2 linked regions of the Homo sapiens genome follow. The protein of the gene in region 1 purifies or fractionates together with the protein of each later gene. This does not show direct contact. Each region holds a gene or a part of one and is shown in the gene's direction. Other genes may lie near its edges.

Region 1 (10,017 bases):
GCCTCCTCTGCCCCTTTTTATAAAAAATAATTTTAAAATTACTTTGCCATGAAAGCTAACAGTAGATTGTCCATGTTATTAGCTCCTTTCCAAATAGAATCTAGATTGGATGTAAGAATTCCTTTTTTTTTTTATTGCTAACCAGCTTCAGCTGATCAAATTCAAATGAAACTGTTCCACCCGCTATCATTTCTTCATGCTTGCTGTCAATTAAGGCTTTGATCGTGGCAGGTTGTCATGCAGGTCGCTTGCCTTTATTGCCAGATTTTAGGGTGATGTGAATTCCTTGTGGCCCTAGACATTTGACCTTTAATAGGTCTGAATTAAGAGATGACTGGGCAGAGTGTGGAGTAAAGCTGCTGTTGTCTAGCCTACTGCATAGCAATAATCTCCTTTTCCCATCTGGTGGAGATGACCTCAGTCTTTTCTTGGTTGAATTCTGCAGGTTTAAAGCAATGTTGTGGATGTGTGAAGAGTTTCCCCTCTCTCTGGTGGAGCAGGTCATTCCCATCATTGACCTAATGGCTCGAACGAGTGCTCATTTTGCAAGACTGAGAGATTTCATCAAATTGGAATTCCCACCTGGATTTCCTGTCAAAATAGGTACTGCTAAATAAACTTCAGCAACACTTGGAGGTTCTGCCCATGTTTGTGGGTGGCAGCATGTGGGTGGCAGGATGCTTCAGGGAATTGGAGTGCTTTAGGTCAAAGTAGCTTATAGACATAACAGAGGAGGTCAGAGTTCTCCTGTGGTTTGATTTAAAGAAGTGTTATGATTAGTGGTTCATTTTGTGTATCAAAGTCAAGAGATCTCCAACCATCATTTCTATTTGCAAATGGTGCTGACAGATATAAAAAGGCATAAAAACATGACACAGTCATTGTTTTAATGTCAAACCTTAATTCAGTGAGACTTCAAATTAGATAATTATTTGAGGAAGACAGTTGACACCAAGATCCTTTGATATGTAAATATGATCTACGTCCCAAGCTAGTATGCATAATGCTATATATGTATATATCATACATACTACTCATGAAGAGTATTAATTTTGGATAGTTGTATGTTCATGATACTTGAACCCTGGCTTGATCACTTACTCACTGTGATCTAGGAGAAAATACATAACTCATTTTCTCTTTTTTTTTTTTGAGATGGAGTCTCGCTCTGTTGCCCAGGCTGGAATGAAGTGGCATGATCTTGGCTCACTGCAACCTCTGCCTCCTGGGTTCAAGCGATTTTCCTGCCTCAGCCTCCTAAGTAGCTGGGATTATAGGCATGCATCACCACGCCCAGCTAATTTTTGTATTTTTAGTAGAGATGGGGTTTTATCATGTTGGTTAGGCTGGTCTCGAACTCCTGACCTCAGGTGATCAGCTCGCCTTGGCCTCCCAAAGTGCTGGGATTACAGGTGTAAGCCACCGCGCCTGACCGAAAATACACAACTCTCAATCTCAGTTTTCCCGTCTGTGTATTGGGAAGGGTTGTTATGAGGCTTAAATAAAATTATACTTATCAAAGTACTTGGCATAGTAAGCACTTAGTAAATGATAACTATTATTGTTATTCTCAGTAAAGTTTACTTATAAAAGTTTTTATTTTGTTTGTTAGAAATTCCCTTGTTTCATGTCTTAAATGCACGGATTACATTTGGAAATGTTAATGGCTGTAGCACTGCCGAAGAATCTGTATCTCAAAATGTGGAAGGGACCCAGGCTGATTCAGGTAAAAAAATAAATAAATACAAAGTTTAGTTTTGTTATTTAAAAAAAAATTTATGGCCGGACGTGGTGGCTTATGCCTGTAATCCCAGCACTTTGGGAGGCCGAGGTGGGTGGATCACCTGAGGTCGGGAGTTTGAGACCAGCCTGACCAACATGGAGAAACCCTGTCTCTACTAATAATACAAAAATTAGCCGGGTGTGGTGGCGCATGCCTGTAATCCCAGCTACTCGAGAGGCTGAGGCAGGAGAATCGCTTGAACTGGGGGAGAGGCGGGGGGATGGAGGTTGCTGTGAGCCGAGATTGTACCATTGCACTCCAGCCTGGGCAACAAGAGCAAAACTACATCTCAAAAAAAAAAAATTATAATTCAGTCATCATATTCATAATTCACTCTGAAGCTGGAATATCTGAGGGAGTAGATGTCTGTGTTGGATGAAAGAAAATTTCAGATTTAGTTTAGATTAAGCAAAAAAAAACTTGTAGAATATATATGATCCTAGTTATATTAAAAAGAAAGGATGTTCTTAAAAATCAGCTTTATTGAGGTGTAATGTACATACAATAAAATGCTCTCATTTTAAGTGTGATGGTTCAGTGCATTTTTTTTTTTTTTCTCAGAGTCTCACTCTGTCACCTAGGCTGGCATGCAGTGGCACAATCTCTGCTCACTGCAGCCTCTGCCTCCCAGGCTCAAGCGATTTTCTTGCCTAGTCTCCCAAGTAGCTGGGAATACAGGTGCGTGCCACCATGCCTGGCTGATTTTTGTATTTTTATTAGAGACTGGGTTTCACCATGTTGGCTAGGCTGGTCTGGAACTCCTGACCTCAAGTGATCCACCCAGCTCGGCCTCCCAAAGTGCTAGTGTGAGCCACCATACCCAGCCACATTTTGACAAATGTATGCATCTGTGTAACCACCACCATAGTCAAGGTAGACAGCATTTCCATATGCCCCCAAATTTCCTTACACTCCTTTGCCATCAATACAATTCATGATTTTAGATGCAATTGTAAATGGACTTATTTTCTTAATTTCATTTCCAGTTACTAGTATATAGAAATATAATTGAGTTTTGTATTTTGACCTTGAATCGTTTTTAAAAATTTTTTATCTTTTTTTTTTCTTACACAATTGCATGGCCAGGATTGACCTTGTTTATCTTGTAACATGGCTGAATTTACTTGTCTTACACTTTTTTGTAGATTTCTTAGAATTTCTTACATATATGGTCATGTTGTCTATTAATAAAGAAAATTTTACTTTTTCCTTTCTAATCTTTAAGCTTTTCATTTCTTTTTCTTGACTTACTGGACTGGCTAGGACATCTAGTACAATGTTGAGTAAGAGTGGTAGGAATGGCTGTCCTTGTCTTGTTCCTGGTTCTAGGGGAGGAAGGATTGTTGTGCCATTAGGTATGATGTTAGCTGTGTAGGTTTTTTATAAATGTCCCTTATTAGTTGGAGGACATTATTCTCTTATATTTCTAGTTTGCTGAGAGTTATTACCATTTTTAAGTATTGATTTTTGTGAGATGTGTTTTCTGCAACTATCATGATGGTCCTATGTTTCTCCCCTGTAGTCTACCAGTAGGAGGAATTAAAAGATAGCATTTTAATGTATATAAATTAAGACTTCAAATAAAAACAATTGAACTCGACAATAATATACACCTTTACATTCCCATGTAGCAACAAAGTTGGGTGAGATGTGTTCATGAGGTTGTGCAGCTAAGGAACACTCGTGCACTCTTGGCTGGAAGAGGAGATTGGTATAGTTCCTTGAATAAAACATTCGGCATTACTGTATAAACTGAAGATGTGGATGACCTAGCAATTCCTAGATGTGTACCCTAAAGAAAGTTATGCACATGAGCATCTGGAGACCCCAGTACTGGGCAGCAGCATCCATTCATAACAGCAGAAACCTGGAAACGACCCAAATGTCCCGAGATGGTAGAATGCGCTATTGTGCTCTATTAATACAACAGAATAACATATAGTATTGAAAATAAAAATTTATAGCTATGTGCGTCAAAACTGTTGAATTTCAAAAGCATAATGTTGAATGAAGAAAATCCAATTTGAAGAATAAATTCCGCATGATTCCATTTATGTCGAGTTCACAAACAGGCTAATACAAACTATTAGGATGATATACATGTGGCAAGCTCCAGAGAAGAGCTAGGCAGTGTAAACAACTATTCTGAATTATGTATTTACCTCTGGAGAGGAAGAAGGGAATATTGTTAACAAGGGATGTGCCCGCAGTATGGTATTGATAGTGTTTTTTTCTTTTTCTTTTTTTTTTTTTTTTTTGAGACAGTCTTACTCTGTCACCCAGGCTGGAGTGCAGTGGTGCGATCTTGGCTCACTGCAAGCTCCGCCTCCCGGGTTCATGCCATTCTCCTGCCTCAGCCTCCCGAGTAGCTGGGACTACAGGTGCCCGCCACCACGCCCGGCTAATTTTTTTTTTTTTTTGTATTTTTAGTAGAGACGGGGTTTCACCATGTTAGCCAAGATGGTCTCGATCTCCTGACCTTGTGATCTGCCTGCCTCAGCCTCCCAAAGTGCTGGGACTACAGGCGTGAGCCACCGCGCCCGGCAGTTATTGATAGTGTTCTGTGTCTTAGGCTAGGTGAAGGGCACACAGGCATTTGTTTAATTATTATCATTTTTAAGTGTTCAGATATTTTATATATACTTTTATATATTTACCATATATCTTCCTGCAAAAGGAAGAAACACATTGGTGTGACTGTGCGTATATGTTTAGGGGGAGAAATCTGCGCTTTTCATTTTATAGTCTTGTGTATTTTTTTATGACTGTGTTCGTTGTTTCCACTAAAATCAAGGAAAAAGAAAAAAGCTGTATTCTGTCACTTTTTTCTGTCATGCTTCCTCAGAATCTCTCATATAATAGTAAGCCTTGATTGTTATAATTTTGAGCCTTTCTTTTTTTTCTAATGTACAACATTTTTGCAAAAAGTTGGAGTGGAAATGTAATGAACTCAGACACTGGACGGTTGCCTTTTGTTTCAGCTTCCCACATCACAAACTTTGAGGTTGATCAATCTGTGTTTGAAATTCCCGAATCTTACTATGTTCAAGACAATGGCAGAAATGTGCATTTGCAAGATGAAGATTACGAGATAATGCAGTTTGCCATCCAGCAAAGTCTGCTGGAGTCCAGCAGGAGCCAGGTGTGTTTATCAGAATACTCTAATGGCAGGGCGTGGGAGGTCTTACCCTCTGGGTTAGCCTCAGTGTTTGGCTAATCTGAAAGATTTATTCTAAATATCAAGTTTGACACATTCATGGTATTTGCATAGGTTATACTTTGTGCATCTGGTCTTCTTACAAAAGCTTGTTATGTAAGAGACCATCTACATAATCCCAGTCAGCACCATTCACAAGATGTCTTCAGGCAGACTTTCCTTTTCCTCATATTCACGCACATAGCTTGTAATTCTGTACTTTTTGAGATGTGCTTCATCATTTTCTAGCACTGAAGCAGTATCATATTTTTCCTGAAGGATTACCTGTGTGTCAGTAGTCTCGGATGAAGGTAGTGAAGTGGATTTGAATCCCACTTCCTCCACAAAGGGTACCATCTCCCTAAACTCTCTCTGGGTCTCTAGTGAAACAGAAAATGAAGGACAGGACAGACCTGTGTAAGCAGTAGGCTTTGTGTGTGTGTGTGTGACTCTATGTTGCCCAAGTCGGAGTGCAGTGGCTGTTCCCCGGCATGATCATATTGCACCCTCAAACTCCTGGGTTCAAGAGATCCTCCCACCTCAGCCTCCCAAGTAGCTGGGACTAAAGTCATGCACCACTGTGCCCAGTAGAACAGTTGCCTTTTATTGTCATATCTGGTTCTCCCTCCATGCCTCACCTACCTGGGACAGTCCAAGGCTTGAGGTCCTCCTCCCCTAACATCAACTCCTTCCATCTCCTTCCTTCTGTGCCTCCTGGCTCTACTAGGGTAGGGTCTGGTCTGCCTCCAGCACCCTCTGGTGTGTCCTGGGTTCCTGCAGTCCATTTATTTGTTAATTGGCTTTTTCTTCCATTCTTCATTCAGATATTTGCAGAGTACCTTCTTTGTGCCAGGCTCTGTGCCAGGTGCTGGGAATTCTCTGGGAAGCAGCCCCTGCCCTCACAGGGCTGCTGCTTTGAGAACAGTGCTCACACTCCAGCGTCCTCACTGGTTCAAGCTTATAGCTTTCTGGTTCTATTCCTGAGTCTTAGTGCTTGTGTAATGTGAGTCTACCTCCTCCACTTCCCCCTGCCACCACCATGGCCCCATTCCCAGACCCATTCAGTTTTCCGAGCCAGACCCCAAAGCAAGCATGTTCCCTTTGGGAGGCATCCTGGGAGAAGACCCCTGCACATCACCATCAGCCTGGTATGCTTTTCCTTTCCCTATGTAAGTGAGCTTAGCTCCCCCCGCCAGCTCCCAAGTAGCTTCATAAACCTTGTTGACCATAAGTTTTAACAAGGGAAGTAGCCAAAGTCAAAGACTACCAGTATTGAATTGTGTCTTCTAATCTTGCCCTAGAAGAATTACTGGCTGGGTGCAGTGGCTCATGCCTATAATCCCAGCACTTTGGGAAGCCAAGATGGGAGGACTGATTGAGCCCAGGAGTCTGAGACCAGCCTGGGCAACATAGTGAGATCCTATATCTACCAAATTTTTTTTTTTTTTTAATTTTTGAGGCAGAGTCTCACTCTTTTGCTCAGGCTGCAGTGCAGGGGCACAATATTGGCTCACTGCAGCCTCTGCCTCCCAGGTTCAAGTGATTCTCATGCCTCACCCTCCCGAGTAGCTGGGATTACAGGTGCGCACCACCAGACCCAGCTAGTTTTTGTGTTTTTAGTAGAGACGGGGTTTTACCATGTTGTCCAGGCTGATCCCAAACTCCAGACCTCAAGTGATCCACCAGCCTTGCCCTCCCAAAGTGCTGGGATTAGAGGTGTGAGCCACCATGCCTAGCCTCTACCAAAAAATTTTAAAAGCCAAGTATGGTGGTGTGCACCTGTATTCCCAACTAGTCAGGAGGCTTAGGTGGGAGGATTTCTTGTGCCCTGGGGTCAAGGCTGCAGTGAGCTACGATCACATCACTACCCTTGAGCCTGGACAACAGAGTGCGACCCTGTCTCTAAAAAAACAAAAACCTGCTTTGGTCACTTGAACTTTGCCCAAGGTCAGCTGTGTTTTTGCTTTTCGTTGTGTATATCTTCCACGTGGGTTAGCTGTATTTAAGAGACTGATTTTGTACAAAGGATGAGAAGGTTGTGGCTGTGAGTTAGGCTGTGGCATGTTACTACCTCCCACTTAGGTGTTGTTTTTGAGGTAACCCAAGTCCCTGTTAGCTTTTCACACAGCACTATTGATAATGGTCATGGAAAGACTTTTAATTTGGTTCTTGCTGCCATCGTTTCCTTACCAGAATGGCACCAATTTCTCCTAAGACGTATTCATGTCTATCACATTTGTCTTTGCCAGGAACTTTCAGGACCAGCTTCGAATGGAGGGATCAGCCAGACAAACACCTATGACGCCCAGTATGAGAGGTGATTGACTGACGTGACTCTGGAATAAACCAGGGTGAACACAGGCCTGGACACAGGCGAGCAGACGCGTGGCACTGTGCATTTGGTCCTCAGGCAGATGTACGGTGCCACAAACTGGCAGGAAAGACTAGAAAAAGTAGGCCAGGAGCGGTGGCTCACGCCTATAATCCCAGCATTTTGGGAGGCCGAGGCAGGCGGATCACGAGGTCAGAAGATTGAGACCATCCTGGCTAACACGGTGAAACCCTGTCTCTCCTAAAAAAAATACAAAAAATTAGCCGGGCATGGTGCCAGGCACCTGTAGTCTCAGCTACTCGGGAGGCTGAGGCAGGAGAATGGCAAACCCAGGAGGCGGAGCTTGCAGTGAGCCGAGATCGCGCCACTGCACTCCAGCCTGGGCGATAGAGCGAGACTCCGTCTCAAAAAAAAAAAAGACTAAAGTGTTGGCTCTCTTGCTTCCTCTTGTGGCAGTTACTTATAATAACTCTAGACTCTTGATAGCAAGTTTCCAGGAATGGGTGATAGAATTGCTGACTGGTTCACAGGTCAGTGCCATTGGGGGAAACGTACTGAGTCAGTTTTTTCTGATTGGTTTGATCTTCTATGAATGATGTATGATCACAGGGCCTAGATGTCCTCAGTGGGAAGTTTATATAATTGTAAAGATAAGGAAGTTTGGAGGAACAGCTCCAGAGATTACGGGAAAAACCGCGAGGATTCATTTTACGAAGACTTATACTTAAGGTGTCTATGAGAGCCTGTTGATGAAGAACCTGAGTTTTGCTTTAAAACAGATCCAAGTTCAATTCCCAGCCCTATCACTTACTGGTTGGGTGGTCTTGGGCAAGATTGTGGGGTTTCTCACCCGTATACAACACCTACACCGCCAGTTATGTGGGATTAATTGGCATCATGCATATTAAATGCCTGGCACAGTGTGCCCTTGGTAAGCGGTTAAGAAATGTAGTTACTGCTGCCACCATGATGATGATAGTAGTGACTCTCCCTTTTTATCTGTTTTCCAACCCAGGGCCATCCAGGAGAGCCTCCTCACCAGCACAGAAGGCCTGTGCCCCAGCGCCCTGAGCGAGACAAGCCGTTTTGATAATGACTTGCAGCTAGCCATGGAGCTCTCTGCCAAAGAGCTGGAGGAATGGGAGCTCCGGCTCCAGGAGGAAGAGGCTGAGCTCCAGCAAGTCTTACAGCTGTCACTCACTGACAAATAGACCTTTCAGCCTGTGAGCCTCTGCACAAAGCAGAGGCTGTGGGCTGTCACAGATGCTGTGTCAACCAGGGCCCTAGGGCTAAGGGCCTGCACCTTGCGTGCATGCAGCAGGCAACAACTGCCCCTTCTTTATGCAGAGGTGCAGAACCAGGGACTCCTGGGCCCATCCAGGCTGCTCCCTGGGGTGGAGAAGGGACCAGGGATTGCAGGCCCCATCTCCAGGCTAAGGGGAGGAGAGCATCATCACTTTCCATTAGCTGTATTGGCTTGCAGGTCACATTTTTACTACCAGCTTTAGACAAAACCCCAATCCCCGCAGGTTTGTAGATAAATTTTTATCAAGGAGTGATAACAAGACAAGTTATTGCAGAGTCAGGGTGCTTTTATATATAAGAGCAGCAGCCGCCTTTGTAAAGTGTGATCTATGAGAATTGGAGACACTTCTTTACTGTTCACCAAAGAAATGGGTAATCTGTGCTGATCTCCTTATTTTTACCTTTTTACAGGGTTTCTAGGACATTGTCATTATTCTTCCTCCATCTATCTGATTCCATTCCTTCCACACCCAGCTAAAGTTAGAGGAGATACATATAGAATCTATTTTAGATTATTGTTAACTATTTGCATCAAATTAAGATACACAAATGGCCATGGATGTTGCCTTAGCCTTAAACATTACTAATAGTTTCACATCACCTCACTGCACGCATCGAAGGATCTGATTTGAATTTGTAAAGGCAATTCTTTTGAGAGCAGGATTCTCCAGGCTAAATCAAAGGCAGCTAATCCTGTCCCTGAAGGAGCAGCTAGGGGAACCTGAGGCTTGTTCTTGAAGTGGGCAAGCTGGCCAAAATATTGGAACACACAGAACCAAACCAGGTGTGTTCTACACCTGCATGAGTGAAGGATTTCCACGTAGACACCTAGGAAGAGCCCGCATGCCCTAGACTCACTCCAGAGGAAGGATTGATTTGCAACCAGAAAGGGAGCTGAAAACCACGGAGCTCCATGGCTCTTCATTCAAAAGGGAAAATAATGATTCCACGTTGCTTTTTAGAGTTCAAATCAACATCTTTCTGGATAAATCTATTTTTTAACAATCTTTTTATTATTTGTAAAAGATATAAAAACAACTCCCATCAGTAGCAATACAAGGTTATACATTTTAACCAGATTTTCTCAGGCCTTTTTTGGATACCTTTAGTAGTTAACTCTCTTTTGTCAAACCCTCTTGTATATAACCATCGCACAACATACAGAACCCTGGGGAATACAGCCAAGGGCACTGCTCACTGTGGCCCGTGTATTCATTCCCACAGGCTGCACTGAAATAACCTGGTAAACAACACCCTCCTCCATTTTGCGTCTATTTCTTCTATTGTGCTTCTTTGGGGATAGGAAGAGAAACATAACTACTGTTCCAGGTAACGTCTGTATCATACAGTTAGTGTTGCCAGTGAAACGTTCCCAGATACAAAGAATTGTGCTTTTAATTC
Region 2 (10,017 bases), on another chromosome or scaffold:
CTTAGCCGGGTACATAATCTGCTGTGCTTTATTCATTTGTGTCTTAAGTTTGTTTCCCGATGACATACCTTTCCAGCAACGCCATCTGGGGAGTTTGGGCAACTGTACCACGTTAGGAGGAAACCCTTCTTCACAGGAGAGTGTGCCTTTGCTGCAGGGAAGGAATTAGGATTTGCTTGGACTGTGGTTGCAGCTGGCTTTTAAGGATCTCCTTAGAATGCAAGCAACTCATCAATGAGAATCTCTGCAATGGTTGTCACTGGGTAGAGTCATGCTATGTGGGGTCATAGCCTTTGAAACAAATAACAGTAAAGATAAAAATGCTATTAAAGGAATCACCACCCACAGAGGTTAACTGGGTTTTGTCCCCAGACCACCTCGAACAAGAAAGAACATTTTTATCAGTCATTTTCTTAGTTTTAGCTGATAAAACAAAGTACCATAGACTAGGTGGCTTATAAACAACAGAAATTTATTTTTCACAGCTTTGGAAACTGGAAGTCTGAGATCAGGCCGCCAGAATGATCAGATTCTAGTTAGGGCCTACTTTGCTTTTGCAGACTGCCAACTTCTAGCTGCATTTTCATGTGGCAAAAGGAGATTGAGCTAGCTCTCTGGTCTCTTCTTATAAGGACACTAATCCCATTCATGAAGGCTTCACCTTCATCATCTAATTACTCTCCAAAGACCCCACCTCCAAATACTATCACATTGGGAATTAGATTTCAAATACAAATTTTGCGGGGACACAAATATTCAGTCCATAATAGTAATGATTACTCATTATACATAGGGCTCTAAATGTGCTAGCTTCTGATAGTTTTTACACTCACTTCTCTTTATTAGCTTGTCAAGCATAATTAGGGCAGTGGCCTTACTGAAAATTATTGAATTTAGTTTCCTAAGGACAGATATTGAGGAGTTTTTTCTTCACTAAAAATTCACGTTCCGATACAGCTTTCATCTGTTACTACTTTGTGAGATGGAAAATCTTTTATTTTATTTTTATGTTTGGATTGACCCTTCTTAATAAAGTCGGCATGTAATATGCTTCATGTGTTTCTAATATGTGCTTAATTTTGCAAAATGTTTTGCATACCAGAATGCATTTCTCTTCCAAAAAAGGTACCAGCCTACAAAACCTTGCTGTTACTGTTTTCAATTAGTTCATGGAATTAAATGTATTAAATGTTTTATGCTCTGGCAGAAATTATGATTCTCACTTAACTCCATATAAATCTGGATCTGCCTGGGCCTTTATAAGTGACACAATTTCATTAACTGAATAAACAAATGATACAAAGAAATTTGGTTTAGCCTTCTAAAATTCCAAAGGCGTTCAACAAAATATCTCAGAATGGATGTTCCAGGACTTTTATGGCACAGGACAACATGTATTGCTTATTTTAAGAAAATAAGCTAAATAGTGAGGGGATTCTTTTAGCAGATCCTCAGGATGTGTTAGGTTGAATCATAGGCAAATGATATTTGATCATTGCACCTGTTAACACATTGAACCTCATCCTAAAATTGTAGAGCTAGAAGAAAGCCTTCTGGCAGTTTTTAAATAGATTGATTTACTGCAATTTATCCAGAAGCTTCACCGTTGTCACTGGCTACATGTGACTTTGGCCTCTGTGGGGCTATATCCTCATTTGTAAAATTGGTGGTGAGGTAGGTGGACAGTTGACTAAATAATCTCTTAGAATAATTCTAGTATCTGTGGATCTAAAGCATCCAGGGGTTGAATATGTTTCTTTCTGGCCAAGAAAAGATGCACCTGTCAATAATGCCCAAACTCATCTTCTGAGAATCCTCTTTCCCAAGATACCCACTCTCCCTTGGGTTATATTATAGTAATGATCAGAAGCCCCTGCCAAGAAGAAACTGTTAACCTGGGAGGTCTATATTTTATTTCACAGCCATCTGTTTATACTTTCTCACAAGTTAGTGCACAGTATACCCATCATTTTCTACCATTTTCCTTAATTTATTAATTTTACTAATTGCATAATTAACAAAAGTAAGAAGATTTTACCTCCTTATCCCCATCTGGTAGTTTGCAGATACTTGGCCTGATGACAACTGACAGTGATGAGATACTCACCAAGTTTACCAGGGCAGGAGGCTTCCTAGAGAAAAAATGAGAAAATGAAATGGGGAAGGGGAGTGAAGGATTGAGGAGGTGACAATCTGGACTCTTGCAACTGCATGGCAAGGTTGGCACACAAGCTGGGTTGCAACGGAGGGAAGGAGATCCTTATCAGATGTAATCAGAGCTCAGATCGAGGGCTTTGGTGTGTGTAGAAAGAGGGAGAGACAAAGAACTTAAAACAGAGCTGCCATTTGACCTTGCAATCCCATTACTTGGTGTATACCCAAAGGAGAATAAATCATTCTATTAAAAAGACACATGTGCTTGTATGTTCATGGCAGCACTATTCACAATAGCTAAGACATGGAATCAAACTAGGTGTCCATCTATGGCAGATTGGATAAAGAAAATGGGGTAAATATAAAGCATGCAATACAACATGGCCATAAGAAAAAATGAAATCATGTCCTTTGCTGCAACATGGATGCAGTTGGGACCCATAATCCTAAGTGAATTAACACAGGAACAGAAAACCAAATACAGCATGTTCTCACTTATAAGTGGGAGCTAAACACTGAGCACACATGGACATAAATATGAGAACAATAAACACTGTGGACTACTAGAGGGGGGAAGGAGAGAGGTTTGTAAAACTACCTATCAGGTGCTATGCTCAATACCTGGGTGATGGGATTTACACCCCAAACATCAGCATCATTTAATATTCCCATGTAAAAAGACTGCACATATACCCCTTGTATCTAAAATAAAACTTGAAATTAAAAAAAAAAGAAAGAAAGAAAGAGGCTGGAAATAGAGGCTCACACCTGTAATCCCAGCACTTTGGGTGGCCAAGGTGGGTGGATTGCTTGAGCCCGGGAATTCAAGACCAGCCTGAGAAACCTGGTGAAACTCTGTCTGTACAAAAAATACAAAAATTATCCAGGCATGGTGGAGCGCACCTGTAGTCCCAGCTAATGGGGAGGCTGAGGGGGGAACATCACTTGAGCCCAGGAGGTGGAGGTTGCAGTGAGCTGGGATCACACCACTGCACTACAGCCTGGGTAACAGAGCAACTCTGTCTCAAAGAGAGAGAGGAAAGAAAAAAGAAAAGATGGACAGATAAGAAAATGCACTTGGAGATTAAGAGAAAGCAGCAACATAGGACCCTGGATAATGTGTTTGCTTAATAACTATCCTGATGAGTTATCTGACTATTCCCAAATGAGTACGTGGCAATTCAGGCTGAACCATCAGAGTAGCCCTCCGGAATCTTACTTATGTACAATAGACCTGCATGCACATTTACTAGAATGAGCCTCTCTCTCTGGTAATCATGTCTGCTTCCACTAATTCCATCTGTTTCCTCTCTCTCCCTCCTATCCTGCTAGATCTTAATTCCTTCGACCTTCCTTTGTTTTTCTAACTCCCTTTCTTTCTCTTGTTATTTAACCTGCTATACTATGCAATTGATCTCCTCTGCACTAAGGAACATGCACTTCAGAATTCTGTTGACATCTTGCATTCCTTTATATTTAGTGAAAGAATGCAAAGGAGTCTACCTGGCAATATTCACTCTGCAGGAGGCAATAATTATTATTCAAATTAAAGGAAGCAGTAAAGAGAAATTCAGAAAAAATGAAATATACTAATCTTCAGCTTTTCATTTCAGCCTACAAGGAAAAAATGAAGGAGCTGTCCATGCTGTCACTGATCTGCTCTTGCTTTTACCCGGAACCTCGCAACATCAACATCTATACTTACGATGGTGAGTAACCTAGGATAGACATACCCCTGCTAGCTAGATCATTTGGAAAGGTTGACATATATTTGTTTCTTACAGCTCCTGATATAATTACATCAATATTTTGTAGCTCTCACTATTGACTTGCCGTGTCTAGCTATTATGTCCAATTGATTACCTATTGCTGAAAACAGTTTGAATTTGGTGCTAATAACAACACATCAATGTCTGTTAAGAAATGTGGATGGATTCTTATTAACAGCCACATCCAGCATATCAACATCCACAATATGTCTAAGGTCTTTCTTTGCAAATAATTTAATAGGCTAAGCCATAATTGGAGTAGATCATAATTTGTAAGAAAATGCTTTATACTTAGAAAACTCAAGAGAAAGAATCAACAACCATAATTGTTTTTGCTTTATTGTAGTCTTTATAAAGTTTCTATACTTTGTATATACATGTCAACCAGCTAATGATAATAATAATTGGCTCAATAAATAAAACTGACTTACGACTGAGGCCCTAGATAAAGAGGGTCTGAAAAGAAAAGCCTAAAGAATTAGCATGGCAATTAACATGATTGAGGTGCAACTCTTTAGGTTTGATTTATCCTGATTCATTTTGCTTACTTTGGCTCTGCCACAATCCACATGATCTTGGTCAAATAGATACTTGGATTCTCTAAGTCTCATTTAACTCTAGCATCTTCCTCTTGGAGTTGTTGTGAGGTTTAAACGGTTTAATGTAAGTCAAATATGCAAAACCAAGCCTAGCTCATTATATCACTCTACAATGATAGCTATCATTATCAACATCATCCTTACCTAATTCAGTCAATTTAACTAAAATATTTTATACAGTTCTATGTATCCTAGATATCCCTAAGGCATATTTTACTAACTCTCAGGCTCACAAATATTTTTCTTTTCCATATATGTAAAGAAAGACATTAATGACAAAACAAACTGACCTTGTGGCAGTTAACCCCTTCTGCACCTTTAAAGCCTATTCAAGGACTCAAAGGCATTTACCTTCCAAAGTTATTCTATCGTAGCACAAAAATCATAAATGCTAATTAACTGTTCCATAAGGAAATGTCCTCCATGTGAAAGGAATTCTGTCTCCAAACAAAACATTCATTAGAATGCAGGGCCAATGCCTACTTTGTACAAATTCATTCGGTCAGCAAATAAATTAGACAGACCTTTATTATTTGCTAGATGTAGCTGTGAAGAAGGATCCAGCTATGTTTCTTATGAGACTAATGTCGAACTATGGGTTGTCACTGAGGATCCAGAGTTCCATAGGGCGTAGTCCTCACCTTCAAAGAATTCAGGGCTTAGTAGAAGAGTCTTACACAAATGACTAGAATGTAGAACACAGAGTGGTTAGGACAAAGGAGCCAGGGATGGTTTTTGCTGGGTTAGGGAATGAAAAAAGGGGAAGAAAATATGTGAAGTTATGTGTGAGCTGATTCTTGAAATAAGCTGTTTTTATTTGCCTGCGTTCTCTTATAATCCTTTTCCATAGGCTTCCATAATTTTTATTGAGCTGTATTTAAAGTTGAATAGATAATTCAACATTTCTCGTAAACTGTGCTTCCTAAAAGAGTCCGTAGAGAATTTCAAATTTCTGCAGTCTTTAACTTGACCTGGTATTTCTATGTTAGATAATAACGTGACTTGTTTATTGCAGGCAAACATTATAACAATAAATTATTATTATTGTTTACATTTGTAAGCACTAAGTATATGGCTTGTGCTTTGCATTCAGCATCCTTTATCATTTAATCTTCACAACCACCTTAGAAGGAAGGTACTCTTTTTATTTCCATCTTTTAAATGAGGAAATAAAAGCATAAAGAAGTTAATTAACTTACCTAGTGTCACACAGCTATTAAGAGGGGCTTACTATTTGGATGCAAATATAGGCAGTTCTAATTCCAGAGCCTCTAATCTAAGGCATTTAAAACCCCATCACCTTATCAAATAAGCTGTTTTTATTTGCCCGTGTTCTCTTATAATCCTTATCCATAGGTTTCCATAATTTTTATAAAATTGTATTTAAAATTTAAGTATAATCTTGGATGCCATCAGGAAAATGAAAAACATTTTTACATTTGTGAAGGAAAAAGCCCACATCATTTCCAATATAGTTATTGAGTTAGTATTATCTAGACTATCTATTAGCAGCTAAGGATCTGAGGTCAAGGCCTGCCAGCCTGGCATTTTACTTGACCACAACCTCCATGTGCACTAACCAGGCTGCTAAAAGAACATTAACGGGAACATAACCTGCTGGCTTGGTTGCCACAATTTTAAAAAGACGTTAATAAATTAGAGAGCACTTAGAGGTTAGGAAATAATATGGTGGTAAAGATCTAGAAACAGTGTCATTCTGGGGCACTTGAAGATGTTTAGCCTGGGGGAACAACTTGAAATGGAACATAACTGTTTTCAAATACTTGAAAAATGGTGGTGCACCACAGAGAATGGCCTAATCATGGGTAGCTTCAGACTTCAAACAAGGATCAGTGGGCTAAAACCAGAGAGATGGAGTTTGGGACTCAAAGAATGCTCATCTGAAATTGAGGGCTGACCAGCGAGGTTCTTTTAAAAATCATTGCATTTTACTAAATTGTGAGTTCTGTAATTATAAATGTCCTAGCAGGTGCTAGCTGTCATCTTTTCTATTATAAATTATACTATTTTATGTTATAATTTGTATTATACAGGCTTAAAACATAAGGGTCTGATAATCTGCTTATCTTTAATACATAAGCCACTGATAGAAAATAAGTGGCTAACCATTCTTCAGTTCTTTTTTTAATTGACAAAAATTGTATATGTTTGCGGTGTATGGCATATTTTGAAATATGTATACATTAGAGAATGGCTAAGTGAAGCAAATTCACATATGCATTACCTCACACACCTGTCATTTATTTGTGATGAGAACAAAAAATCTACTCTTTCAGTGATTTTCAAGAATACAGTACATTGTTATTAACAATAGTCAGCATGGTGTACAATAAGTCTTCTGCGGCCGGGCGTGGTGGCTCACGCCTATAATCCCAGCACTTTGGGAGGCCAAGGCTGGCAGATCACGAGGTCAGGAGTTCGAGACCAGCCTGACCAACATGCTGAAACCTTGCCTCTACTAAAAATAGAAAAATTAGCTGAGTGTGGTGGTAAGCGCCTGTAGTCCCAGCTACTCAGGAGGCTGAGGCAGGAGAATTGCTTGAACCTGGGAGGCGGAGGTTGCAGTGAGTCGAGATAGTGCCACTGCACTCCAGCCTGGCAAAAGAGGGAAACTCCGTCTCAATAATAAGTCTCTTGCATTTGTTCTTCCTGTTTAACTGAAATTATGTATTCTTTGATCAACATCTCCCCAGTCTCCACCCCTAACCCCTGGTAACCACAATTCTACTCTGCTTCCGTGAGTTCAACTTTATGAATAGTCCACATGTAAGTGAGATCATGTGGTATTTGTCTTTCTGTGCCTAGCTTATTTCACTTAGCATAGTGTCCTCCAGGTTCACCCATGTTGTCAAAAATGACAGGATTTCCCCCAACTTTTTTAAGGCTGAACAGTATTCCATGTGTATGTGTATAAATTAGATTAGTAGATGTTGCCACTCCCTCCTCCACCACAGTGGCTCTATCCCTGGCTCCTGGCTCCAGCCGAGTACACTAGAGGAGGATATTCTAAACAGCAACAACACAGGAGCAAAGACATTACAATGGGGTGTTGTCTTATTGCCCCCATTAGACTGTAAGCATCTTGAAGACAAGGACCCCCATCACAGAGTGATGTTGTCATCCCTGGAGTGGGCACTGTGCATGATTGATGACTGGAAGCAATGAACATACAGAAGGGCAAAACAGAAATCAGCAGGATGCTTTGCATTTCAGCATTGACTTTGCCAAATATGCCCAACTGTTCAGGGAGTTACATTGGTTCTAACGAAGCTCCTGTGATTCCTAAGCACAGGAATGGTGATAATATATATAATGGTGCATGCATATATACGCATATCTAGATAATGATATCTCATTATATGTGAGAACTGAAGAACTCCGTTATGTTTCTCGTCTAACCAAAAAGGGCCTACAGCTACGATAATTTCCAAACAAATAAATCTGTGCTACTTGATTTTCATGCAAAGCTCATATTTGTTCAAAAGGAAAATAAAGCTTAATTTAAAATCAATTTAGGCTATTTTTATCTAAGTATGCTTACCGTTATTCAACTCCCTGCAGATATTGTCAAATTTCTCAATATGGTAAATATTTATTCTGTTAAAATATATCCATAGTTACACTAAAGACAGAGAGGTCTTATATGTTCTAAACAACATAGAGCAAATGCTCATAAACAGCATTTTATTCCTATCTCCCGGAATAACAACGCTACTTCCAATTGCTGGAATCTAAATTATTAAAATAAACCCATGCTGCAAGCTTTGTATGCTTAACATTCTCAAATGTTCACTTTTCAGATATGGAAGTGAAGCAAATCAACAAACGTGCCTCTGGCCAGGCTTTTGAGCTGATCTTGAAGCCACCATCTCCTATCTCAGAAGCCCCACGAACTTTAGCTTCTCCAAAGAAGAAAGACCTGTCCCTGGAGGAGATCCAGAAGAAACTGGAGGCTGCAGAGGAAAGAAGAAAGGTAACTTTTTCCATAGGTTTTCCTTCTCTCTCTCCCTCCCCTGCTCCTCCCTCTCACACACTCGGGCACACATGCACGCACACACACACACACACACACACACACACACACACACACACACATACAGAGAGCAATGACAGCTGAACCTGTGCCATGCCAACATGTATAGGTTTTCAGTAGACACAGAGCCAGGCTAGTTGGGGTAAAAACTGTAAGATAGATGCTAATTTTAGGCTAGCCAAACCAGAGCTCTCAGAAATCCAAAGAGCTTCAGTGCTCTAGTGCCCCTTCCCGTATATTGAATCCCCTTATTATAAAAGCCTCCCTTCCCTAGACCATCAGGCAGAAGCACTGTAGAGAAAACACAGCCCTGGCGAACTCCAGTGGTGGGGAGGGGAAGAAGTGCTGCTTCCTCCCTCTCAGGATCTGTGTCACCCCCTTTGTCAGGCGTGGTTTTCCTTGGAATTACAAATTACCAGATCTTCCCTCCAAGATCTTTCCTGCCCAGGGTAAGGGCCAAGAGCTTGCCCCTTTCCTCTTCAGAGTCCCACTGCCTGCCCTGGAAGTTGGTCCTTCCAAGATCAGGACCTTCTCTGAGTTCTTTGAATATGTTCTTTATCTTTTTCTAAGACTTGATGGGGATTTTTCTCTTTTTGCCATTGGTCCCTGCTTATATTAAAGAGCTTTCCTTTTGCCAAATCTTTACTTTTCCATAATCACATGGCTAAGAAGAGCCAAGGGTATTATTTGAGAACACTTAGAAATCCTAGGGACTGTGTACACAAACAGAAGTTGTTTGAATGTGTCTGTTCCAACCATGTGGTTATGGTAGTTAATCCCATCAAGGTACTCACGATCATCCAAAAATGGAATTCTTTTATGTAATTCATCCCCACATTGTATTTCCCAATATTTTTTATGATATAATTTTAGAATCAGGTAATCACTAAGAACATGTTCCCTGCACAGTTTTATGATGTTTTCTCTAAAAAGTCAGCCAAAACTTTGGACACTTCTATGTTGGATAATTAAAAACAGAATGAAGATAATCCTCCTCCTAAAGATTGAATTCTCCAAGAGAGAATGCAGGACAAACACAGATGTGCTGTGTATAGTATATGTGCATATATACATGCATATATGTACACAAATATGTGTATTATCAAATAATGAGGCTCAAACATTAGAAATCCTTAGATTAAATTTTCTAAACAAGAAAACACTAATCTTTGTAGTTGAAAAAAAATCCTCCTATGATATGTAATATGCTGATCTCAATTTTCACCTAAGAGTGATGTTCTCCAAATGTCCGATGAGCATGTCATATATATATATATGAATTTTTATATATATAATTACAATGGTAATTGGTATATAGAGATATCTATATTATAGATATATATAGCTATCTCTATATATTACATATACCAATTATAGATATAAATATAACAATGGTAACTGGTGTATATGTGATGTGTATATATGTATATGTATACCATAA

The links.
Region 2: the proteins of ANKRD13A (region 1) and STMN2 purify together in Homo sapiens (co-immunoprecipitation; 2 studies listed by BioGRID and IntAct, with this or other methods). This does not show direct contact.

The regions. Positions count from the first base shown.
Region 1 is NC_000012.12:110,029,033-110,039,049, forward strand, and holds part of ANKRD13A (ankyrin repeat domain-containing protein 13A), read left to right. Parts: intron 1-445; coding exon 446-603; intron 604-1,612; coding exon 1,613-1,726; intron 1,727-3,414; exon of another isoform or gene 3,415-3,678; intron 3,679-4,764; coding exon 4,765-4,925; intron 4,926-7,228; coding exon 7,229-7,296; intron 7,297-8,326; coding exon 8,327-8,522; 3' UTR 8,523-10,017. UniProt on the Homo sapiens protein: Ubiquitin-binding protein that specifically recognizes and binds 'Lys-63'-linked ubiquitin. Does not bind 'Lys-48'-linked ubiquitin.
Region 2 is NC_000008.11:79,633,035-79,643,051, forward strand, and holds part of STMN2 (stathmin-2), read left to right. Parts: intron 1-225; exon of another isoform or gene 226-291; intron 292-2,038; exon of another isoform or gene 2,039-2,132; intron 2,133-3,767; coding exon 3,768-3,863; intron 3,864-5,046; exon of another isoform or gene 5,047-5,132; intron 5,133-8,343; coding exon 8,344-8,516; intron 8,517-10,017. UniProt on the Homo sapiens protein: Regulator of microtubule stability. When phosphorylated by MAPK8, stabilizes microtubules and consequently controls neurite length in cortical neurons.